Homo sapiens: one gene and its partners. The protein of the gene in region 3 purifies or fractionates together with the protein of the main gene of each other region. This does not show direct contact. Each region holds a gene or a part of one and is shown on either strand. Other genes may lie near its edges. The genes, in order: HEPHL1, LYPLA2, SGO2, PADI3, PREP, KIF2C and LYG2.

What was found.
Region 1: the proteins of SGO2 (region 3) and HEPHL1 purify together in Homo sapiens (affinity purification with mass spectrometry; 3 studies listed by BioGRID and IntAct, with this or other methods). This does not show direct contact.
Region 2: the proteins of SGO2 (region 3) and LYPLA2 purify together in Homo sapiens (affinity purification with mass spectrometry; 3 studies listed by BioGRID and IntAct, with this or other methods). This does not show direct contact.
Region 4: the proteins of SGO2 (region 3) and PADI3 purify together in Homo sapiens (affinity purification with mass spectrometry; 3 studies listed by BioGRID and IntAct, with this or other methods). This does not show direct contact.
Region 5: the proteins of SGO2 (region 3) and PREP purify together in Homo sapiens (affinity purification with mass spectrometry; 3 studies listed by BioGRID and IntAct, with this or other methods). This does not show direct contact.
Region 6: the proteins of SGO2 (region 3) and KIF2C purify together in Homo sapiens (co-immunoprecipitation; one study listed by IntAct). This does not show direct contact.
Region 7: the proteins of SGO2 (region 3) and LYG2 purify together in Homo sapiens (affinity purification with mass spectrometry; 3 studies listed by BioGRID and IntAct, with this or other methods). This does not show direct contact.

The regions. Positions count from the first base shown.
Region 1 is NC_000011.10:94,104,854-94,108,353, reverse strand, and holds part of HEPHL1 (ferroxidase HEPHL1 precursor), read right to left. Parts: intron 2,364-3,500; coding exon 2,224-2,363; intron 1-2,223. UniProt on the Homo sapiens protein: Is a copper-binding glycoprotein with ferroxidase activity. It oxidizes Fe(2+) to Fe(3+) without releasing radical oxygen species. May be involved in the regulation of intracellular iron content.
Region 2 is NC_000001.11:23,789,832-23,793,944, reverse strand, and holds the start of LYPLA2 (acyl-protein thioesterase 2), read right to left. Parts: upstream 2,801-4,113; 5' UTR 2,695-2,800; intron 1,394-2,694; exon of another isoform or gene 1,299-1,393; coding exon of another isoform or gene 1,263-1,298; coding exon 1,185-1,262; intron 938-1,184; coding exon 906-937; intron 795-905; coding exon 729-794; intron 474-728; exon of another isoform or gene 413-473; intron 241-412; coding exon 193-240; intron 86-192; coding exon 15-85; intron 1-14. UniProt on the Homo sapiens protein: Acts as an acyl-protein thioesterase hydrolyzing fatty acids from S-acylated cysteine residues in proteins such as trimeric G alpha proteins, GSDMD, GAP43, ZDHHC6 or HRAS. Deacylates GAP43. Mediates depalmitoylation of ZDHHC6. Has lysophospholipase activity.
Region 3 is NC_000002.12:200,524,969-200,529,006, reverse strand, and holds the start of SGO2 (shugoshin 2), read right to left. Parts: upstream 2,801-4,038; 5' UTR 2,755-2,800; exon of another isoform or gene 2,267-2,754; intron 1-2,266. UniProt on the Homo sapiens protein: Cooperates with PPP2CA to protect centromeric cohesin from separase-mediated cleavage in oocytes specifically during meiosis I. Has a crucial role in protecting REC8 at centromeres from cleavage by separase.
Region 4 is NC_000001.11:17,252,098-17,255,597, reverse strand, and holds part of PADI3 (protein-arginine deiminase type-3), read right to left. Parts: intron 1-3,500. UniProt on the Homo sapiens protein: Catalyzes the deimination of arginine residues of proteins.
Region 5 is NC_000006.12:105,372,083-105,375,582, forward strand, and holds part of PREP (prolyl endopeptidase), read right to left. Parts: intron 1,497-3,500; coding exon 1,287-1,496; intron 1-1,286. UniProt on the Homo sapiens protein: Cleaves peptide bonds on the C-terminal side of prolyl residues within peptides that are up to approximately 30 amino acids long.
Region 6 is NC_000001.11:44,763,837-44,766,051, reverse strand, and holds part of KIF2C (kinesin-like protein KIF2C), read right to left. Parts: intron 1-2,215. UniProt on the Homo sapiens protein: In complex with KIF18B, constitutes the major microtubule plus-end depolymerizing activity in mitotic cells. Regulates the turnover of microtubules at the kinetochore and functions in chromosome segregation during mitosis.
Region 7 is NC_000002.12:99,249,167-99,252,666, forward strand, and holds part of LYG2 (lysozyme g-like protein 2 precursor), read right to left. Parts: intron 1-3,500. UniProt on the Homo sapiens protein: May act as a potent antibacterial protein that may play a role in the innate immunity.

The DNA of each region.
Region 1 (3,500 bases), on a different chromosome or scaffold from region 3:
AGCCACAAACTGGAAGCAAATATTTGTGAGTCACATCACTGAAAAAGGATTTGTATCCAGAATATATAAAGCCCTCAAACTCTACAATAAGGAAACAAGTAACCCAATTTTTTTAAATGGGCTTACAATTTGGACACTTCACCAAAGATTTACAGATGACAGATGGTAAACAAACACATGAAAAGATGCTCAATATCATTAGCCACTGGGAAAATGTAAATGAAAAACAATGAGATACCACTATATCCCCTCCCCAAGGAGGGAATGCCTAAGGGAAAAAAATGAAATAAAAACTAAAAATACCAACTGCATATGTGGATGTGCAACATATGGAGTTCTCGTATATTTCCTTGGAAATGCAAAATGATACTGCCTTTTTGGAAAACAGTTTGGTGGTTTCTTATGAAATCAAACATACACTTATCACATGGCTTAGCAATCCTACTTCTAGGTATTTTCTCAAGGAAAATGAAAACATATGTTCACACAAAAACATGTGCACAAATGTTTGTAATGACTTGATTTGTAATAAACAAACTTGAAAATAACTCAAATGTTCCTCAACAGGAGAATAGATAAACAAACTGCATTATATCCTTACAATGGAATACTACTCAACAGTCACAAGAAACAAACCACTGATACACATAACAAGATGGATACAATTTGAATGCCTATGTTAAATCAAACAAGCCAGATTCAAGATGCTACAACCTATGATTTCCACATAACCTTTCAAAAAAGGCAAAACTATAGAGACAGTGGTTGACAAGTGTTAAGTATGGGGAAGTAGTTGACACTAGAGGGTGCAATGGTAAAATTTGTGGGGGAAATAAAAGTATTCTATATTGTGATTGTTGTTCGTTACACTACTGTATGTGCTTATCAAAAGAGAACTGTACACTAAATATGGTGAATTGTATTCAATGTAAATTATATCTTATTTTTAAAGTGTATATGTAAATTTTTATAATTTTGTGTATTAAATTTTATAAATTTTTAATATAATTTTTAAAATGTGAGTTTAAAAAAGCCAAATTCTGAAAAGCAGCATAGCCATTTAATATGTGAAACTCTAATCATAGCAGGCTAATACTTGGTGTCGTAAACAACGTTGAAATATACAAAGGAGAAAGGATATTAAATGTTTTATTAAAGTTACCGTTTATTCGTGTCTAACTAGAAAAGATCAATTCCAGTTTTCTCCACACATTGGATATGATTGTTCTTTTCTATTCCACTTCCTTGTAGAAAGCACTGAGAACTTCGGATGACAGACTATTTGGACCTTTCCATGGAGATTCTGATTCAGCAGGTCTGGGTCGGGCCTGGCAGTTGGGTTTTTACATAGTTCCCCAGATGGCTCTGCTGTACAGTGAGCACCACCCATATGGTACAGCTTGATGCTAGAGGGTAGAAAGTCACACATGGTCCAGCCCAGCTCACTAGGGCAAAAGTCAAGATAAAGTTTCAGGGCTTAGGCCAGAGCTCAAAATAGCTCCTTTACTGGATAGAGCTATTCTGTTAGCTAATCACACAGAAAAAGAAAAGGGTGGGGAGAAGGAAAGGGAAAGAAAAAAGGAAGGGTGAGGAAAAGGGACGAATGCTGTCAGTGTCCGTGGTTTCATATACAATATTAACAGCATATTCCAGGGTGGTCAGAGTTATCCCCAGATCACTAATGAGAAAACTCTCACCTGAGGCTTGGAGAGATTTTTATAAGCACAATAATATACATATACATATTAAGAAATAGCCAGGCCTGGCGTGGTGGCTCACGCCTGTAATCTCAGCACTGTGGGAGGCCGAGGCGGGCAGATCACGAGGTCAGGAGATTGAGACCATCCTGGCTAACATGGTGAAACCCCGTCTCTACTAAAAAATACAAAAAAAATTAGCCAGGCGTGGTGGGACACACCTGTAGTCCCAGCTACTCGGGAGGCTGAGGCAGGAGAATGACATGAACCCGGGAGGTGGAGCTTGCAGTGAGCTGAGATTGTGCCACTGCACTCCGCCCTGGGCAACAGAGCAAGACTCCGTCTCAAAAAAAAAAAAAAAAAGAAAAGAAATATCCACCAGGGAAACGGTACAATCACATTATTCTGTTCCATTCTCACCTATCCTCACAAGCATTATTGCCAAGTAACTCTTATTTTCCACTGGAAATACATTGAATTTGTTAGTTCAAAAACGTCTTTCCCAAAGCACTTTCCTTATACTTACTTTGAAAAGAAAGCTCTCAGCATGATAATGGATGGTATGTATGTCCACTTCACTTCCTATCCCTAACAAATACCAGTTTGTCATTGTATCTTCGTTCATTATGAGGCCATGGAGATTCCCAAAAATCTTTCCATTAATGGCTTTAAAAGGTGATAAGAAAATAACCTTTGGTTAGTTAAAAGATAAGCTGATTTTTTAAATGTTTCCAGAAGATCTTTAGGTCACTGATATTTTCATCTGTCTAGTAAACATGCAACAATCTCACTCACCCCTAGCAGTGTCCTACCATTCTAGACCCAAAATTCAGATAACTGAGAAATCCTTCTACAAAGAGAGCGAGAACAGAGAAATAGCAGTTTTAAAGCCGTATCTTGGTGGCAGTGTTTTGTTTGTTTATTCAGCATAATCTCTTTATGAAGGGAAATACAGTCTCATTGGAGAGGTAGTCAGATTTATACCACTCTACAGAGAACAAATCAAGGCATAAACAAGTTTATGTAAATAAAAATTGAGTGACTTAGAAGGTATTTTCTTAATATTTCACTTGTTGAGAATAGTTTAAGCCTGGCTGAATCTCCAAAAATAAAAGAGAGCTTCACACGGGCTGAGCTCATGACCTAACAATGACCAAAGCAAACTGAGTTTACATGATGGTGACTCCCACTCCTCCACTGTCTACTGACTTTTGATTCTGTGCATTGTGGTGCAACCAAATGACCTGCATTCATTAAAAATGGAGAGCATACTAAGACATCTTTAGGAGAAGAAAGCAAAACTGGTAGGGGAAAGAGTAGCTGAATGGGGAATCAGGCTACTATATTCTAATCTATATTAACAAGTAGCTTTGTGACCTTGGGCAAGGCCTTTTTGTGCACTTTTGGTCAAAAATAGCTGTTGGTGAGAAACTGTGGATGTGTCAATGTGAACACATTACTCCCACCAACAAACTACCTTAAATTATGTAGAAGTAACACAGATACATTAAAACAGAAATTTGATGGTAGTGTTTCATATCCCAGAGACAATTAAACCTGGCCCTTAAATTTAAACAAATAGAAGTTATGGCATATTCTTATAAAAATATGACAATAAATGATGATTTGTTTTTAAAGAATTACTTTACAGTCTTAGAGCTTAGAGATCCCAGGATTCAGAAATACATGTCCCTACAAGTTAGTACAAAGCCTCAATGACTTTGCTGCCAGCCAATCAGTGGCTAGGCTGGTTCAGTCTGAAGGAAAGCATTAGAGGACTTTCTTCAGTCCAGGTGCCCCTGG
Region 2 (4,113 bases), on a different chromosome or scaffold from region 3:
GGCTGGGGTCTTACTGTTCTCTGCTGCCTTCTTGATGCCAGCCTCGTCCTCTGGGGCATCTGGACTCAGCCCCATCAGGTCAAACCTTGGGAGTAGAGGCACTGGCAGCTATAGAAAACCCCAGCCAGCCCCCTGTGGCTCCCTCAGCCCAAGTGTCCTCGTCCCCCTGCCCACCCCCACTCCCAAACTCACCAGGAGGGCATCACCATCTTCATGTTGAGGGTCACAGGGATCCTAGGCCTGGGGAAAGAGAGCCAGAGGGCCCATCATGCTCAGGAGGAATGAGGAGGCCAGAGCTCAGAGCCCGGAGTGGGGCCGCGCCGCCCCTGGTGGCCCCTCCCAGCAGGCAGGGCCTGTGTTTAAGGTGTTGCCAGGCAACCTGCCACGTGGGGCTGGAGGCTGTGGTTGGGGCAAAGCGCCAGTAATGGAGAAGCAGAGCCCAGCGCTTGGTGTGACGGGGTCCCAGGTAGTCGGTGAGTACTTGGGGAAGGGGCAAAGGGAGGTGTGGGTTCTAGGAGAGCTCAGGTCTAGGAGGCCCTAGGGCTGGGGGCTGGTGCTGGACCCCACTCCTGGGGGCTCCACAGGAGCTCAGGCTGAAAATGCCACTTCTGACTGCCCTGAGCCCAAGCCCCAGGATGCAACTGACAGGAGAGAACAGGCCTGGGATGACAGGACCACCCCCAGATGATCCCCAGCCTCAGCCCCTCCCTTGCTGGGGTGACACTCACGCATGGGGACAGATGTACTTGACGTGAGGGAGCCGGATGGTGGAGAGGGCGTCAGCCCAGCTGTGCCTGTAGGAGGGACGGGAGAAAAGGCTCCGATGTGGTAGGAAGAGAAGGCCTCTCCAGTCCGCTGCTGGGCCAGGACCCCTCCTTAAGGAGCACCCCTCCTCAGTCACTTACCCTGTGTCTCCAAGTCCATGTAAAAAAATAACCTGGAAAAGGATGGGAAATGGGGAGACAGGAAGGCTTCCCCTAGGTCCTCCAACTTCTGCCCACCCCTCCCCCACCCCCAAGGACCTGGGGGAACCCAGGTAGCAGCCAAACAGGTTACTACCCCGAGCCTGCTGGCCTCAGGATACTCCCTGCTCATCACTGCCACCTCCATTTTCCCACACCCCCTCCAGCCGGTCCTCCAGCTGCTCCCACAGTGTCTGGCCGTGGGTGAAAGGGGACCCTTACCGCGGCCGTTTCCCGCTCAGCTCCAGACACGGTGGCAGCATCGGTGAGCAGGGGCACAGACATGGTGTTACCACACATACACCACACGGCTCCACGGCGGGGGCCTGCATACATCGGGGCGGCGGTCAAGAGCAAAACCAGGCACAGGACACACTCCTGGCCCAAGAGGCCACCAGGCCATCAGCCCCACACAGCACCCAGGTTCTGTCCTGGGCACAAAGAATAGTCAAGCAAGAAGTCCCAGGGCACAGGAGAAGAAGTCTGCCTCAGTTCCAGGGCTGAAAGGCAGAGACAGCCTCCCTAGTGGCCCAGAACATGTGTCTCTGGTTCTGGCCCAACCACAGGACCTGAGCTTGCTGGAGACAGGCAGAGGCAGGGCATAGGGACTGTAGGGCAGGGGGCAGAGGGGAGGCAGCGGCACGCCTGCTTCATTCCCCCTCTAACTCCTCAGGGGTGAGTGCCTTCCCCCTCCTCTCCAATCATCCCTGGGTCCCTGCCTCCCCAACTCCGGGCCCTATGGGAAATGGAGAGAAAAGTGCCAGGGAAAGGAGCTTCCATCCCCTACTCAGTGCCGCCTCCAACCCCCATCTCAACCTCCCCCCACCCAGCCCCCATCCAGCCTTCACAGCAGTTTCTGGCCCATCCATTCCCAGACCCCCAGGGGGCTGCCCATGTCCCCAGAAAGCGTAAGAACTCCACCCACCCCCAAACTGGTGCTCCACGCCCCCCCTAAACGGAGCTACCTGCTGCTGCTGCCACTGACTGCAAACGAGCCCTGGCTTGACCACGCTCTGGGACTCCCAAACACACAAAAGAATGTCAGGCTGGCTGGCCCCTCCCCATCCTCGGCGTCCTCCAAACTCGCCGGAAGCTTCCACTACCTGCCTCAAGTGCCTGCCCACCCCTCCCAACTGGCCTCACCTTCCATCTCTGACCCCTGAGGGCAGCTCCCCACAATGGGATCGTTCACCTGTGACCCGGGGTTCCTCTTCCCATGGGGAATGCACCTCCTGCCCTGAGCTGCGATTCCCTTCCTTCTCCACCGTGGGGACTTGCACCTCCCGCCCAGGCTCCCTCCTCGGAGGGGTGCCTTCCCCCTGACCTGTCTCTCTCTATACACCTTGAGAACTTCCACCCTGACCCAGGATCTCCCGCTCCCCACAATGGGAACTTCTGTTCTGACCAAAGGTCACCCTACCCAGTGAAATTTTCTACCCTGACCCAGGACTCCCACCTGCCCACAATAAAGCTTTGTACCTTTGACTCTGGGGAAGCCCCCGCCCCACAATGGGCTCTTCTATTTCCGACCCTGAAGTCTGTCTCTTTATACTCAGACACCCCCTTGCCTAGCCCCGCTCCACTCCCGAAGTCCCCAAGACTGGACAGCGCCTTCGCACCTCACTCCCCACCCCCATCCCCCCCATCACGGTTCCCCCTCCCCGCTCTCCGGGACCCTCCCGAGGCCGACCTCCCCCTACACGCCCATCCTCCGCAGCCGCCGGCTGGGTACCTCCACTCCCTGGGACTTCCGAGGCCGCTTGGGCGATTCTCCTCTTTCTCCCGCAGACACACTCTTCCCCCTCGGCCGCCCCCGCCGGAACTTCCGTTCGAGTCCCGGGAACCCAGCCATCGCGCTGCCGGAAGTAGCCTGGCCGACAGTACGGAACCCGGAAGCGGGGACCCGGCTTCGCTGGATAGAAGCTGCCATGTTGGAGGCGGCGGGGCTACTCCCTGTCATTCAGCCGCGCAGTCGCTGGGTTCTCACCCGCTCCCACCTTGTAGATTCGAGACAGGGCACCCAAGACTCCCACTTGCTACCACCACCCATGCGCCTCCTGGAGGAGGGCCGACCGGAAGGAGAGGCATCCCTCACACTATTGTTTGCATAAACTTTACCACCTTCCCATCCTCATGGGACACACCTCTTAAGGCCTCGGGTGTCTGCCACTGGCTTTCATGCCCTATTCCAGGATCATGAATGGAATGACACACTCTGAACCGAAGAGACCTTACAGATCATCTAGTTCTCCAGCCTTGAAGATGGGGAAACTGAGGCTCAAGGAAGGCATGTAAACAGCAACCTCGGGATTCCATTTAAATTCTGCCTCTCTGGATCTGCTTCCTGATATATAAAATGGTAATAACCACCCTGCCTCCTTCACAGCTTTGTTGGTAGGCTTAAATGAGGTTGTGTGAACATGGTTTATACAGTAAAATCACAGCGTGAGGTGTTAATCACGCAAAAAAGGACCTAGGAAAAATACAAAGGCCGTATCAGGAGAGCTGGACAGGCACTGGCAGTGTTAGCGCTGCCCTTCACAAGCAATGTCATGCAGACAGTGCACAAAACGCTGCCATCAAGCTGAAGTGGAAATAGGTATCAGGGACCACAGAAAAGTCAGAAGGCAGGCAAACTGAGTTGAAGGAGCATGTCCCTGAGAATGTGTGGGGATCTGCAAATAGGAAATGAGTCACACTTGACCCTCAGCCGCTTAGGACTCACTCTCCCAGCCTAACCTATACTAGTGTTTTCTTTGAACAGAAAGAAAACAGTACAGCCAGGCGCGGTGGCTCACTCCTGTAATCCCAGCACTTTGGGAGGCTGAGGCGGGCGGATCACGAGGTCAGGAGATCGAGACCATCCTGGCTAACACGGTGAAACCCTGTCTCTACTAAAAATACAAAAAATTAGCCTGGCGCTGTGGCGGGCGCCTGTAGTCCTAGCTACTCGGGGGGAGGCTGAGGCAGGAGAATGGCGTGAACCCGGGAGGCGGAGCTTGCAGTGAGCCAAGATAGTGCCACTACACTCCAGCCTGGGCAACAAAGCGAGACTCTGTCTCAAAAAAAAAAAAAAAAAAAAAAGAAAGAAAAGAAAAAGAAAACAGTACAAAGTTGGAAGCTCAACAAAGCACTTTCCCCCAGGCCCAGA
Region 3 (4,038 bases):
TTACTATGTTGTTAAATCAAATACTGTGGTCAGGCCCAGTCTCTTTTTACTTGATCTGTGAAAAGCATTTAATATCAAGTCATTCCTTCCTTTTGAAATACGCTCTTCACTTGGTTGCAAAATAGCACATTCTTCTGTTTGTTCTGAGGCAGGATTTTCTCCTGCCTCGCTGACCACTTCTCAGTCCCTCTTGCTGGTTATTCTTCATCTCCCTAACCTCTTACCACTGGAGTGCCCCAGATCTCAGTCCTTGGATCTCATCTCTTTTATATTTACATATACTCCCTGGACTATCAGCCAGTATCCTGGCTTTTAAATCTAAATGCTGATAACTCTCAAATTTGTGTTCCCAATCTAGACTTTTCCCTTGAACTCCAGATTTATTCATCCAACTGCCTACTACGCATCTCCAACTAGGATTTCTAACACACATCTCAAATTTAACATGTCCTAAACTCCCCCCACCCCAACCTACTCCACCATGTCCTCCCTAGCTCACTTAATGACAACTCCATTCTTTCAGTTGCTCAGGTCAGAAAGTTCCTTTCATATCCCACATCTATTCTATGATCAATTATGCTGACCCAGCTTTCACAATATATCCACCTGGGCTACTTACCACTATTTCTACTGCTACCACTTTGATTCAAGTTGCCATTCTCTCCCATGTACATTATTTGCTATAGCTACGTGAATGGTGTCCCTGCTTCCATTTTCTCCCCGACTATCTATTCTTAACCTAGCAACCACAATGATCCTTTTAAAGCTTAAGTAAATTCATGTTACTCCCATGTTAAAAAAAACTCTCCAGTAGCTTTCCATCTCACTCAATCTTTAAAATGGCCTAGAAAGTACTATACAATTTGACACTTCTCTTCCCCAATTAATCATCAGTGAACCTTTCTAATCCTTTTCATTAATCTTTCTCTTGCTCAATAATCTCTGGCCACACTGCCTACCTTGACATGCTCTAAAGCAGAAACTTTTATTCCTTCTTCCCTTTGTATCAACTCTTCCTTCAAATGACCACAGGGCTTGCTCACTTCCTTCGAGCATTTGCCAAAATGTCACTTTCTTAGTGAGCCTTCCCAGTCCAAACTACTTAAAAACTGCACACTTACCCCCATTCTCCCCTTCTGTTTTATTTTTCTCCGTTAACTTATCAATGTCTAAGATAAAATTAAATAGTTAACTTATTATCTGTTTTCTCCTACTAAATTGTAAGTTCAATGAGGGCATAAACTTTTGTCAAATTTGTTTGCTTCTGTACCTTAGTACAGAAATGTGCCTGCCACATAGCAGCTGCTGGATAAACATTTGTGGAAGAAGTGACTATGAATGAATGGAAGAACTTTCCAATAGAAAAACCGCCCACTCTTGGAATGGGTCTCCTTTGAAAGTGTTAAGCAGATGTTGGGAGGTGTCAAGCAAATAACGGAAAGATGGTTTTAGAAGAAATTTCTGCAATGGGGAATAAGTTGAACCAGAAACCTTTCAAGATTAAGGCTCAACAGTTCTTTTAAACGTTTTGCCAGGAAGAAACTTTAAAATCAAAGATCACTATCTATCTCAAAGACAGTAGAACACAGAAACTCCCCACAAACTGTTGCATCTCACACACCTGAAAGGGATCCTAACATAGAAATCTAGTTCATCTCCCAAAAAATCCAGTCTGGAATATCAAATCTCACTTTACTAATTAGGAAACCACAGCTGGACTGCCCTCCCCAATAAGCTGGTTCTGACACAATTCCTTAATTTAATAAACGACACTGTCAATCGCCTATTCAAATCCTCATGCCAGAAATCTGGGAGTGTTCCTTGACACTGCCCTGCAACCCCCTACATCAATGACCTCACCAAGGGAAACTTTAGGAGCCAGAACCAGGCATTTGGGGTACTGTTCCAGGGTGATTTACCATATAGACACTGAGACATTATGATAGTGATTACAACTGTGTTGGAGCTCCAGTTCCAACGTTTCATAGCTATGTGATCTCAACACCTCTTCGTCTCAATTTCCAGATTTATAAAACCATAAAAAATAAGGGCATCTCCTTGTAGGGACTAAATGAGCCAATGTATGTACAGTGTCTAGTACGGGACCTGGTAAACTATCAGCACTCAATACCAGCACTCTGTGACACTTGTCCGGCCAGCATCTCGACTATCTCTAAATACGAAATACTCAGTTCCACATCCAATTCTCCTGAATTGGATACCTCATCTAAAAAATCATTGTCCCTATTCTCTACTGAAATCCTACCTGTACATCAAGCAGCTCAAGTTCTAAGTTCCAAGTTCTCCCTAGTCTTCCATCACCCCTTCGCCTTCAGCCAGCCTCTCCAAACGAGAGGGCTCCTTCGAGAACTTTGGCACGCAGTCCCTAACATTCATTCCGCAGACACGTACTGAGCGCTCACAATGCCCTAGAAACTGTTCAAGGGAGTAGAGCAGTCCCAGAGACAGAAATATCTTCCCTTAAGTAGCTGACCTAACTGGTGGCTCTCCCCGCTCGCCCTGCCGGACGCTCAAATCTCAGAAACAAGAGGCAGCGACTCAAAGCCAAAACAGGACTCCGTCAACGAACCCCTCGTAGCCGGAGAGGGGCCGCCGTCCCGGATCCCGGAGGACAGAGGGCGGAAGACGAGCCGGAGACCGAGGCGGACAGCGCCTAGAGAACCGACTCAAGAACGACACCGATCCCGACAGGGAGAGGGCGGTCACGTCAACTGCCGCAGGCCACTAACTTACCTCTCTTTCAGCGTGGGGCACCCCCACCCAGCTCCGGGAGCTCGGCGAGCAGCAGCGGCTGCGGCTTGGGTTTAAACGCCACAGCCGTTGGCGGTTGCCCCATCAGCCAATCGGGTCCTGCGAAGATGGAGCAAGGGAGGGCGGTTACTAGGAAGTGAAAGGCGGAAAGGGCGGGACGCCGCTGCTAGGGCAGGAAGGGGCGTGCCCAGGCGAGCCGGGGGCGGCACAGTCTGCGTGACAGGGGTGCTCTTCCGCCCTGTGTTGGTGGCGGTCCGCTGTCTCCTGAAGCGTTGATGGAAAAGGAAACTCTCCTCTGACATTCATTATCAATCACATGTCTGAAAGGCTTGACAGCCACCTCAAGTCTGTTAGAAGGTTTATGTTGTTTACTGGGATACTACCCACCCACATCTTACCATTTCTTCTGCATCCTTGCATTTCCAAGTGTGACGCCAGCACATTTAGTTTTCACTTAAAAGCTCTCCCCGTTTTTCTTTTAACTTTCTGGGGGAAAAGCAGCAATGACATTTCGTTGCAAACCCCGGATCTCATTAATATTTAGGTCTTGCACTAATGGTCTGTTTTAGCTGAATATACAAGAATGACGTTTTCCATTATACACAACTACATTTTAAAAATGTATTATTCACCTTATATTCCATGTCAATTCGCTTATTTTTCGCAAATTACTTTCATAATTTTTACAAAGAATTTGGAGAAACTACAAAGAATAAAATTTCCTCTTTGTATGCCATTGGACTGAAAATGAAAATAGCTTGTTAAATCAAGGTTCCAATAATTGATGATACAGTAATGCAGTCAGCTTCATATTCTTGTCAATTTTTTGTTCATTCGAAGACATTTGAGAATTACAGCTTTCCATTTTTACTTTAAAGAATCTAGACAAATGATGCAAAACATGCTTTTGAGTTAAGATCTTTTAGTCTAATATAAATCACGATCAGTCTCCAAACAGATCTGGTTACATGAATCTTGTGTAAGTAGAAAAGTATTTACTGATTGTCCAGCTGCTAAAATTCCAGAAGACAGTGGTTTACAAAGTAATATACTGGTTATAGAAATTTATGCTTACCTAGGAGTTAACTAGCACTATATCTTGTTTACCCAGCCTGACACATTAAATGCTCAATGTATGTTATATGTTTTTTTAAATGAACCTTGTAGTGACTGTGCCATTTAATGGTTATTTAATCTTGGCCAAACTACTTAATCTCTCTGGGCTTCTGTTTCCTTATTTGTAAAATGGAGTTAAACAGCATCCCA
Region 4 (3,500 bases), on a different chromosome or scaffold from region 3:
GTACGGGAGGATCTAGCTTCCCATTTCCTAGAGAACAGGGGAAGTACCTGGAGCCTCACCTGGACAAAGTCCTTCCTCTCCAGGCCACCTCGAGCTGCCAGCATGGCTGAGCTGTCACATGCTGGCTTCTGGGCTTTCTAGGCAGTGCTTCTGGTCCAGTCCTGGGCTCAGGGCCTTGGACCCTCGCCGCTGAGGCTTCCATGCACAGGCCTGTCCAGGGCTCTCCCAGCCCCACACCCCCCAAGCCAGCCGGAGAACTCAACTGCTCCTCTGGCACAGCCAGCCTAAGATGGTGAGTTGGGGGTAAAATGTGGTAGGGTGGCCAACAGCATCAGTTTGCTGGGACTAAGGCTGTTCCTGGATACAGAATTTGCTGTGCTAAAACCTGCAAGGTCCCAGACAAACAGGAACAGTTGGCCTCCCTAAAAGTAGCCAACCTCAGACCCACCTTATTGAAAATGCAGATTCTTAGAAGTGCTCCAGGTGGGGCCTTGGAACCGCATTTTAAGCCATTCTGATATTTGCTGACATCTGAGAATCACGGCTTAGAGTAGGTTGTCTTAGAAATGCTGGAGCCTGGTGGGCCAGGCGCAGTGGCTCACGCCTATAATCCCAGCACTTTGGGAGGCCGAGGAGGGTGGATCACCTGAGGTCAGGAGTTCGAGACCAGCCTGACCAACATGGAGAAACCACGTCTCCACTAAAAATACAAAACTAGCCGGGCGTGGTGGCATATGCCTGTAATCCCGGCTACTAGGGAGGCTGAGGCAGGGAATTGCTTGAACCTGGGAGGCGGAGGTTGCAGTGAGCCAAGATAGCCCCATTGCACTCCAGCCTGGGCAACAAGAGCAAAACTCCATCTCAAAAAAAAAAAAAAAAATGCTGGAGCCTGGTCCCTCCAGCCCGTGTAGAGTTGACTCAGTGTGAGCCCATCCCCCTCGTGTATCACCCCCTTCAATGGTGAGGAGGAAGACGGGGCATTGGTGAGGAAGGTATCCCCCACAGCCACATAACTTGTGTGCTATTATCCCCACTTTACAGATGAGAATACTGAGCCTTGGAGACGGCAGGTGATTTGCCCAAAGTCACACAGCTAGCAAGTGACAGAGCCAGGACTCATGGCCAGCTCTGTCCCCACTCGCCTGCAAACCCAAACCCATCTTCTCCCTTCATGGACTCAGGGCCTGGACTTCTGGGAGAACAAAATCAGACATTTTAGGAGCTGAGAAACTGATGGGAAAGTTCCCCATGGCTGAACACCGAAAGGTTGACAAGATGACCAACGAGGTCTCCACCGAGCTGGGATGTGGGGGCAGAGGAGACCAAGACCCAGGCAGCTGGGTTTCTGGGTGGCAGTTCCAGCTGCCCCTCCCCAGTCAGCGAGGATCCCAGATCCGCCGACGCTGCCAGCCTCATCAATAGAATCAGGTTCAGGAAATCATGGTCCCACTGTAATCTGGGTGGCCCTGCCCCACCCCACCACTGGAAAGTGGCAGCCCCGTATACCCTTTTTCCAAATCCCCCGTATTTAAAAGAGCAGAAATGCACCAATCCCCCCAAGGGCCCAGCTCTCTGCACAGGCAGGTCAGAGCTCTCGCATCAAACAAAATCCGATGTTGACAGAATGGAAGCTGCTTTGTCAAATCAGGGAGGGGACTCAGAGGCCTCCATGAGTGGAAATTGAAACCCACTGTTCTATGCCAACCCCTTCAGGGTCCATATGGGGAAACTGAGGCCCAGGGTTGAGTAGAAAGTTGCTCAAGATGACATAGTGAGTGACCACAGAACTAGGACCAAAACTTGGAGTCCTGGCTCCATTAGGCAGCCTCTGCAGAGAAAGGGGTGACATGAGTTGTTTGTCTTCCCAGTGAGGGCAGCGGTTCTTAGCCCCAGCTGCACATTCATCCCCAGCGGATCCTGAAAACCTAGGGTGCTGGGGCCTTTCACAGATGAGTTGAATCAGGTTTCCCAAGGTGGGGCCTGGGCATCAATTTTTTTATGGATCCCCAGGTGATTGAAACACACTTCCAGGGTTGAGAACCTCTGAGCTGGAGAAAAGAGGAGCTTCATGGCTCATTGCCAGGTGTGGTCTCTTAGGAGACACCTGCCCGGGATACCTTAGTGATGGGCTCCCTGCCTTCTGTCTTTTCCATGTGCTGTTACTTGAGGTCATTCTGAGGTGCGAGAGCTGTGCACCCGCTCAGGTCAAGGTTGCCCCCTCTTCGAGGTGTCTTAGAGAACAGACTCAGCTGCCCTCTAGGCTGCTGTGTGCGCTGGGCCCCTCTGCAGCCATGCAGATGGGACCTGACCCTTCCAGGACCTTCTGACTGCAGGGCTTACACAGCCGTGCATCTGAGAACACCTGGAGCTCTGGGGCCCTTAGAGCCAAGTCTGCCAGCACAGAGGCGCCACAAGCCCCACCAGGACCTCCAATCCAGGCGAGTCTCAGCACCTCTGTGACTCAGTTTCTTCTTCACCAATAGTCAGAGATCCTTCGTTTGAATTGGAAGACCTAGTTTCTAGTTTTAGCTCTGTCCCTAACTCACTATGTAACCCTGAGCAAGTCATTTCACACTCCAGGCCTCAGTTTCCCCAACTAAAAAATGAAGTGGCGTGTAAGACCCCAGAGATGTCTCACTGAACCAGCCTGGGGACTGCTCTCCAAGCCCACCTGTGATGAATCCCAAAGGTGACCAGCTTCGCGGGCCCCTCAGCCACATGAGCAGCCACAACCCAACAGACTCCAGGAAGCATCTCCACATGTTATGGGAAAGCCCAGTGGGAATGGGTCCAGTCTGTTCTTACCACTGGGCCAATGACAGAGGCCCTGAGGATGGCCCTCCCCACCAGAGGTCATCCTGGGATTTTGATTTTGCCCATTAAGAATGAAACTGGGCCAGACACGGTGGCTCTCACCTGTAATCCCAACACTTTGGGAGGCTCAGGCAGGCAGATCACTTGAGCCCAGGAGTTCAAGACCAGCCCGGGCAACATGGCAAAACCCCATCTCTACAAAACATGCAAAACTTAGTCGGGGATGGTGGTGCACGCCTGTAGTCCCAGCTACTCGGGAGGCTGAGGCGGGAGGATAGCTTGATCCTGGGGAGGTCCAGGCTGCAGTAAGCCAAGATTGCACCACTGTATTCCAGCCTGGGCAACAGAGTGAGACCCTGTCTTCAACAAAAAAAAAAAAAAAAGAAGAAGAAAAGAAAGCAGCTTTCTTCCTGCACCAAGACTTTGTGCTAAGGTTTGTGCTGATGCCTGAGCCTTGAGAAAGAGCTGTGTGGAACCAAGCAAACCACCTGGGCTGTGGAACTTGATGGGATCTGGGTTCAAGCCCTATAGCCCTGTGGGATAGCACTTGTCAGACCACCATCCCGCTGAGCCTGCCTCCAGTTGCAGGGAGGAGTTAATCAGCCACCAGACGCCCAGTGCATGGCTCAGTGCACCAGGGTACCCTTCCTTCCCTTTCCCCATCCTAAGACTCACTGCTCAAGAAA
Region 5 (3,500 bases), on a different chromosome or scaffold from region 3:
ATCTTGTAATTCATTGGCGAATTTATAAAAAAGGTCTTGATGTAGCCTAATCAAAAGGCAGAAAAAGCTAAACATAGCCAAGAGATGAAAAACACTGTAGCCTTATTCTCAATTCAATTGTGGGGGAAAAAAAAAAACAGAAAAGAAAGCAAGGATATTTAAAGATGACAAAGATACAACAAGTCATGATAAGGGGACAACAGGTACAGCAGAAAGCACTGGAGTAGCTGTGCTTCTTGCCAGATCCCAGCCCTCCAGCAAATTACTGAGCCTCTGTGCCCAAGCTCCTAATCTCTAACACAGGGATTGTAAAACTTACCTGTAAAGACCAACCAACATAACAAGAAAATGCTACATACCACGTTGAAATGTGGGGTAGCAAAAGGAAGAAAATGACACATTGTACCAGTAAGGTACAAGGTACATAGCCCTTCCTGCCTGGGAAAATTTAGAAGTGAAGGAGCAAAGAGGGAGGAACCCCTTGAACACAACAGGATCTTTGTGCAATTAAAGAGAAGAACAATAAAGGTGTGTCCAGAAAGTAACAAGGAGAAAAGTATCAAGATAAATGGCAACCAACAGGTGACCTATAACTTCTGATCAGAGGAGAATATGCGATTACTGTAGCAGTAAAGTTTTATAATCACTCAACATAATCAAATAGCTTGGTTCGGTTTAAAAATTCACCTTCTCCATAATCTCCTTAGGAGATATAACACATCTATAAGGGACTGATTGATTGTAATAATGATCTCATTTTTCCGCAGTTCCCTGTATCTATTTCTCCACCCATTGAAAAGGGGCTGGCCCTCTGGCTTGCTTTAGCCAACAGAATGCAGCAAATCTGACGTGCCAGGAGCAAGCCTAGGCATTAAGAAGGCTGTGTCATTCAGCTCCCCGTCTTGCAATTCTACTGAGTTGCCATGTGAGCAAGCCCAGGCTAGTCTGCTAGTCGTCCCAGCTGAGGGCCCAGAAATGTAAAAGAGCCAAGCCAAGATGAACCAACTAACCTGCAGCTGACCACAGATACATGTTAGAACTCAGCCAAGGCCAGAAGAACTACCTGGCCAACCCATAGGCTCATAGCAAAAACAAATGTTTATTATTCTAAGCTACTACATTTTGGTGGGGTCTATTACACAGCAAAGCCAACTGATACAACATCCTTTGAGGAAACATGGTTCTGGACCACACAACCTCTATGTAGGGTTCAGCATCTCTTTTCAGTCACTTGAAGTCACACTTCATTTTGTGAAAAATGTGCTTCATCTGAAGTCTTCACTCACCATCACTTTTTCCATCCTGTTGAGGGTATGAGTTGTAGAACATTCCCTTCCCATCATGGGTCCAGGCCATACAGCTGAACTTGACTCTTTCAAGCACATCTGGAAGCTCTTTGGCACCATCAACTTTCATGAACTTGATTGTCACCCAGTCTGAGCCACTGGCACTCAGACCATAGGCAAAATATTCACCATCTTCGCTGAACGCATAACCTATGGGACACAGGAGAAATCATCCAGTGACAAACACGGAACACAACTCCACGGTCCTTTATGCCATCTAACAAAGCTCTCTTTCATAACACGGAGGTAGAATGTGGCAATAAAAGGAATAGGAATCTGGTAGTGAGGAATCCCGGGGGCTCAGCCCAAGTTTTACAGGAATTACCCTTATAACCTTAGACAAGCTTCCTAACCTCTCCAGGTCTTAATTTGTCTATAAAATGAAATATTAGATTATATGCCTACTAAAATGCTTTCATTTTGAAATTTTTATAATGCAATAGGCAGTTCAGTTAAAAGCAGAGCTCATCTGGGACTTCTGTCATATTTCATTTATACTCTAAAGGGAATAAGGAGAAAAAGGAAACTGCTTTTAGAGTAATGACTGAATTATGACACATACCATATAATAGAACTAAATTGTAGTCATTAGGTAATTTGGGAGATTGATTCCAAATTATCTAAAATCCCTTGTTACAGCCTCATTTTTGAAGCATTACCTGTGCAATGTCCACACTGTCTGACCATTACAAGCCTAGGTAAATAAAGCCTGAGGGTTTGCAGTGAAGGCGCCCGGAGTGCACATTCCACAAGAAATTGTGAAAGGAAAAGCAACATGTCTATAGACTGTCGTGCCATGTACAGTCCTTTAGGGCCCTGGCAGAATGTTCTAATCACTATGGAATGTTTCCTGGCAAATACTTGTGTTTCATATTAGCTTTTTTAATTATGAAGTATGTAAAGCATTCAATACAACACCTCCTATTGGAGACTCTGACACCAGAGATTTCCTCTTAGGCTGTTTGCTAAACGTTATTGGGTAATGAAAATTTTAAGAAGCTCAACTATTATTAGAGGTTTCCTATTCTTTTACGTGGAATTTCATTTGTTTAAAATTTCACAGAACCTACTCATTAACCATTGTAGGTCCTATAAAGTATCTAGGCTCATATGTATGTAAATGCAGAAAAGAGTCTAGAAAGTGATAGGAAAAAGAAACATATTCACCTTTTATTCTACATAGCACTGGAGTGTTTGAATTGTTTATATATATATATATATATATATATATATATATATATATATATATATATATATATATATATCAGAAAATTTTCAGAAAAATTTAAATAAAACATTTTGATTTGAAAAGTATGTTTAAAAATCATATACTACAAAAATAATCTGAATGTTTACTCCTTTTGTGATAACTTCCCTATAATACCACTCTTAGAAAACTCAATGACTGTTTGAGGCAGGTCTCATGCCTAATTTAGCTTCTCGCCCATCAAGGCTTTGTCCATAGCAAACATTCCATAAAGAAGTCACTAGAAGAATGCATTATCGGGGTGGGAGTTAAGACCCTGTCCCTCTGGATGGGCTGCAAGATAGATCCTTGTGGAAACTAAATGAATTCCTATATGGGATATGTTACTTCAACAGAACCAGTGTATTAAATTCACTGAAAACTACAAGCTCAGATTCATGGAAGAATCTGAGCTGGTGATGTCTTATTTTCGATACTGGTTCGATAAAGGATCATTGTTTATATACACAGCCTATTCAGAGGGAGGGGAAGGTGGACCACCGAATGACTGGATCATGGTTAGAAGTGTTTGTATAAAAAAGGGTCTTTGCACAGGTCTGATGGAACGGGGCTCTATAACTCCCATCTTATTGATTACAGAGGACTTCAATGTCTCAATTTCTCAATTCTAGAGGGCCATAACTAATCATATGGTTTTTTCTATAAAACCAGAAGGTACTACAGGAGAAATGCTGAGCCAACGTCATCTATAACATCATTATCATTGTAGAGTTTACAATTATTAAAATACAGAACTGGAGAATAACTTAGTTCCTTACCCTAGAACTCTGCTTACTGCAGAAACCTTGGATAATCTTCTCTATGGCCTACGGAGGAGGTTATCTTAGGGGCAGAGTTAAGTAGGAGATGTACAGCAACTGTGGACAAACTTAGTCTTTAAACCTCCA
Region 6 (2,215 bases), on a different chromosome or scaffold from region 3:
TAAGACGGAGTCTTGCTCTGTCGCCAGGTTGGAGTGCAGTGGCGTGATCTCGGCTCACTGCAACCTCCGCCTCCCGGGTTCAAGTGATTCTCCTGCCTCAGCCTCCCAAGTAGCTGGGATTACAGGTGCCTGCCACCATGCCTGGCTAATTTTTGTATTTTTAGTAGAGACAAGATTTCACCTTGTTAGCCAGGCTGGTCTCAAATTCCCGACCTTAGTTGATCTGCCTGCATCAGCCTCCTAAAGTGCTAGGATTACAGGCGTGAGCCATCACGCCCGGTCAAATGATTCTTTTTAAATAATAGGTATACAACTCAGCCTCCCGAGTAGCTGAGACTACAGGTACGCGCCACCACACCAGGCTATTTTTTTTTATTTTTTAGTAGAGACAGGGTTTCACTATGTTGGCCAGGATGGTCTTGATCTCCTGACCTTGTGATCTGCCTGCCTTGGCCTCCCAAAGTGCTGGGATTATAGGCATAAGCCACCGCGCCCAGCCCGAGTGACTTTATTCTTTCACCGTACTTGTCACCAAATCCTCCTCAATTCTGCTCCCTAAATGGTTTTTTTCTTTCTTTCTTTCTTTTTTTATTATTATACTTTAAGTTCTAGGGTACATGTGCACAACGTGCAGGTTTGTTACATATGTATACATGAACTATGTTGGTGTGCTGCACCCATTAACTTGTCATTTACATTGGGTATATCTCCTAATGCTATCCCTACCCTCAGTTCTTTTTATTATAATTTTTGCTGCACACACCACCTTTGGGATATTTATTTATTTTTATTTTTTGTAGAGATGGGGCCATGTTACCCAGGCTGGTCTCGAACTCCTGAGCTCAAGTGATCTTCCTTCCTTGACCTCCCAAAGTGTTGGGATTACAGGCATGACTCACTGCACCTGGCCAAATGATTATTTTATTTTATTTTTGAGACAGTCTTGCTCTGTTGCCCAGGCTGGAGTGCAGTGGCACCATCTCGGCTCACTATAACCTTCGCCTCCTGGGCTCAAGTGATTCTCCTGCCTCAGCCTCCCAAGTAGCTGGGATAACAGATGCCTGCCACCATGCCTGGCTAATTTTTGTATTTTTAGTAGAGACGGGGTTTCACCATGTTGGCCAGGCTGGTTTCAAACTCCCGACCTTAGTTGATGTGGCCGCCTCAGCCTCCCAAAGTGACAGGATTACAGGCGTGAGCCATTGCGCCCGGTCAAATGATTCTTTTTAAATAATAGATATACGACTGGGCGTGGTGGCTCACGCCTGTAATCCCAGCACTTTGGGAGGTCGGGGCGGGAGGATCACCTGAGGTAGGGAGTTCGAGACCAGCCTGACCAACATGGAGAAATCCCGTCTCTACTAAAAATACAAAATTAGCTGGGCGTGGTGGCACATGCCTGTAATCCCAGCTACTTGGGAGGCTGAGGCAGGAGAATTGCTTGAACCTGGGAGGTGGAGGTTGTGGTGAGCCGAGATGGTGCCGTTGCACTCCAGCCTGGGGGACAAAAGCGAAACTCCATCCCCCCCCAAAACAAACAAACAAACAAACAAACAAAAACCAACCAGATATATAGGCTGGGCATGGTGGCTCACACCTGTAATCCCAGCACTTTGGGAGGCTGAGGCAGGCGGATCACTTAAGATCAGGAGTTCAAGACCAGCCTGGCCAACATGGTAAAACCCCATCTCTACTAAAAATACAAAAAATTAGCCAGGCATGGTGGCACGCACCTGTAATCCCAGGTACGCAGGAGGCTGAGGAAGGAGAATCGCTTGAACCCAGGAGGCGGAGGCTGCAGTGAGCCAAGATTGCACCACTAAACTCCAGCCTGGGTGACGAGTGAGACTCTGTCTCAAAAACATATATATATAGAGAGAGAGTACATATTTTGGGGGGTACCTTGTAAGATTTTCATGCTTGTATATCTAAATGGTTCATGAATCTCATGTCCTCATTCCAATCCCATGAACACGGACACAGTTTGGTCTAGGCACTAGTTTCTCTTTTTTTTTTTCTGAGATGGAGTCTTGCTCTGTCACCCAGGCTAGAGTGCAGTGGCACGATCTTGACTCACTACAACCTTTGCCTCCCTGGTTCAAGTAATTCTCCTGCCTCAGCCTCCCAAGTAGCTGAGATTACAGGCGCCCGCCACCATACTCGGCTAATTTTTTGTATTTAGTAGACATGGGGTTTCGCCACGTTGGCCAGGCTG
Region 7 (3,500 bases), about 100 Mb from region 3:
TCCCAGCACTTTGAGAGGCTGAGGCAGGACGATTGCTTGAGCGTAGGAGTTTGAGACCAGCCTATGCAACATGGCAAAACTCATTTCTACAAAAAATACAAAAATTAGCCTGGTGTAGTGGCACATGCCTGTAGTCCCAGTTGCATGGGAGACTGAGACAGGAAGATTGATTGAACCCGGGAGGTCGAGGCTGCAGTGAGCTTTGATGGTGCCACTGCACTCCAGCCTGGGCAACAGAACAAGACCCTGTCTCAAATCTCAAAAAAAAAAAAAAGGATTTTGTTAAAATGTTTGATGTAAAAAAAATAGAATCTGGTTGGGCGTGGTGGCTCACACCTGTAATCCCAGCACTTTGGGAGGCCAAGGCAGGCGGATCACCTGAGGTCGGGAGTTCAAGACCAGTCTGACCAACACGGAGAAACCCATCTCTACTAAAAATACAAAATTAGCCAGGCATGGTGGTGCATGCCTGTAATCCCAGCTACTCGGGAGGCTGAGGCAGAAGAATCGCTTGAACCCAGGAGGAGGAGGATGCAGTGAGCCGAGATCGCGCCATTGCACTCCAGCCTGGGCAAAAAGAGCGAAACTCTGTCTCAAAAAAAAAAAAAAAAAAAAAAAAGAATCTAACCACTTCTCCCACCTCTGCTTCTGCCATAGTCCCAGCCAGCATCATTGCTCATCTGGACTCTCCTAACAGCCTTCTAACTGACCTCCCTGATTCACTCTTGCAGCCCATCCTCTACTTAGTAGACGGAGTGGCCCTGTGGGAATATGCATGGGCTGCTATCAGTCTTCTCTCTTAACCTTCCAGTGGCTTTCTCCTCCTTTAGGGGAATAGCCAAGTCCATCCTGCAGCCTCCAAGACCTACTAGATGTGGCCCTCTGCTCCTGTTCCTACTTCTCTTTCCCTTTGTTCACTCTCCTCCAGCCACATTCTTCTTTGTGCTTATCCTTCAACATGCCAGGCAGGTTTCTGCCTCAAAGCCTGTATGTTTGTGGTCCCTTTTGCCTAGAATGCTATTCCTCCTGGTATCTACATGATCATGCCTTCAGGTCTCTGTCCAAATATCACCTTATCAGCAGAATATATAGCGAGTTTATAGACAAAAAAAGAAAATAGTCCTTAAACATATAAAAGACGTTAAACCACACTCAAAAGAAGAGAAAGGCCACATTAAAACATCATTATAACAGCATTTTCCAACTCTTTTTTTTTTTTTTTTTTTGAGACAGAGTCTTGCTCTGTCGCCCAGGCTGCAGTACAGTGGTGCGATCATGGCTCACTGCAAGCTCCGCCTCCTGGGTTCATGCCATTCTCCTGCCTCAGCCTCCCCAGCAGCTGGGACTACAGGCGCCTGCCATCACACCCGGCTAATTTTTTGTATTTTTAGTAGAGGCGGGGTTTCAGCATGTTAGCCAGGATGGTCTCGATCTGCTGACCTTGTGATCCGCCCACCTTGGCCTCCCAAAGTGCTGGGATTACAGGCGTGAGCCACCACGCCTGGCTGCATTTTCCAACTCTTTAGTTGGCAAGAGCCCAAAGGTTTGGCAATACCCTCTGTGGGAGAGGTTGTGAGGAAATAGGCTGTCACACACATTGCTGTGGAACACAGTTTTGTGATAGGCTGTTCATTCCAGCACTGTTGATAAGAGCAAAGGACTGCAAACAACACAAATGTCATTAATTTAGGGACTGGTTGAGTAAGTGATGCTACGTCCACAGTGGAGCACTATGCAGCTGCAAAAGGAAAGAATAAGACCTGTATATACTCCTGTAAAATTCTCTCCAGGGACAAAATAGTATTTATAGAATTGTACTCTTTGTGTAAGAAAGGTAAGAAAATACAATCGTATATTTTGTGTGATTTGCTCATATTTTCAAAAGAAACAATACAAGGATGAATGAAAAACTGATAAAAATTGTTAGTTATGGAGAGAGTAAGAGGAAGGTAAAGGGAACAGGGATAGGGGATAGACTAACTATCTTTTTTAAAGTTTTTATTTTGGAACCATGTAAATGTTATCATAAATTTTAAAATTAAATCAAATGGGGAAAAATGGAATCATAAAAAAGAAGAACAAATGAACATAACTCTATAACAAATTGAAAGATTAATAAACACATAGAGGAGAATTATCTTAAGTGACTTTAAAATATATCCATATAAGTCTATACCACTACATAGGAATCCATCCTGTGAACATAAATAATCACAAGAAAATCTTAAATTATATTTACTGTCTCATTGTTGGTTGGTAATACTGTCATACTTATTTTGACACTATTGTATGTAAATAAGTAATAATGCTAATGTCATTAGAACTAGGATTTTTAGTGTAAGATAGCAGAGGTACAAATATAAAACTGATGTAAAATGCTTGCATTCTTAAATATAAATGTGAAATATCTGAATGCATAGTTGTTTTCCTTTTAAAAATATATATTTTCTAGTTCCTGCCACTGAAAACACCTGAAATAAACGACAGCTCCATAGCAATGGAGCACTTTTACTTCCCACACTGTGGTCTCTAAATACCATTTCCTGCTAAGTGGAACCAGCGCTCCTCAGAATAATGGCTGATTGCCTGCCTGGGGCAGGAAATGTTCAAGATGAACCAGGAACATCTTTTTGTGCCAGAGCTGGTCCTTATATGTTAGAGACACATTAAAAAAAAAAATTTTTTTTTCCAGATGGAGTCTCACTCTGTCGCCCAGGCTGGAGTGCAGTGGCCATTCTCCTGCCTCAGCCTCCCAAGTAGCTGGGACTACAGGTGCCTGCCACCACACCTGGCTAATTTTTTGTATTTTTAGTAGAGATGGTGTATCACTGTGTTAGCCAGGATGGTCTCAATCTCCTGACCTCTTGATCCGCCTGCCTCGGCCTCCCAAAGTGCAGGGATTACAGGTGTGAGCCACCGTGCCCAGCCCAAAAATTTTTACAGGTGAAATGTTTTTATCTCACTGCAAGCTCCGCCTCCCAAGTTCATGCCATTCTCCTGCCTCAGCCTCCCAAGTAGCTGGGACTACAGGTGCCTGCCACCACACCTGGCTAATTTTTTGTATTTTTAGTAGAGATGGTGTATCACTGTGTTAGCCAGGATGGTCTCAATCTCCTGACCTCTTGATCCGCCTGCCTCGGCCTCCCAAAGTGCAGGGATTACAGGTGTGAGCCACCGTGCCCAGCCCAAAAATTTTTACAGGTGAAATGTTTTTATCTCCCTCCCTTCCTCTCACTCTTTCCCTCTCTCTTCCCTTTTTCCTCTCACTCTCTTACTGTTCGTTCCTCTCACTAGAAGATAAATTTCATTAGGTCAGATACTAGATGTTTTTCTCTGCTATATCCTCCTCAGCACCTGGAACAATGCTTGGCACAAAGTAGACATTTAATAAACATTTGCTGAATGGAAGAATGGATAGTTGGATGGATGAAGGAATGAGACAGAAAGGGATTGTTTAAATTATCTGGATCAAGTGTCCTTATATTGACAGGTTCAGTATC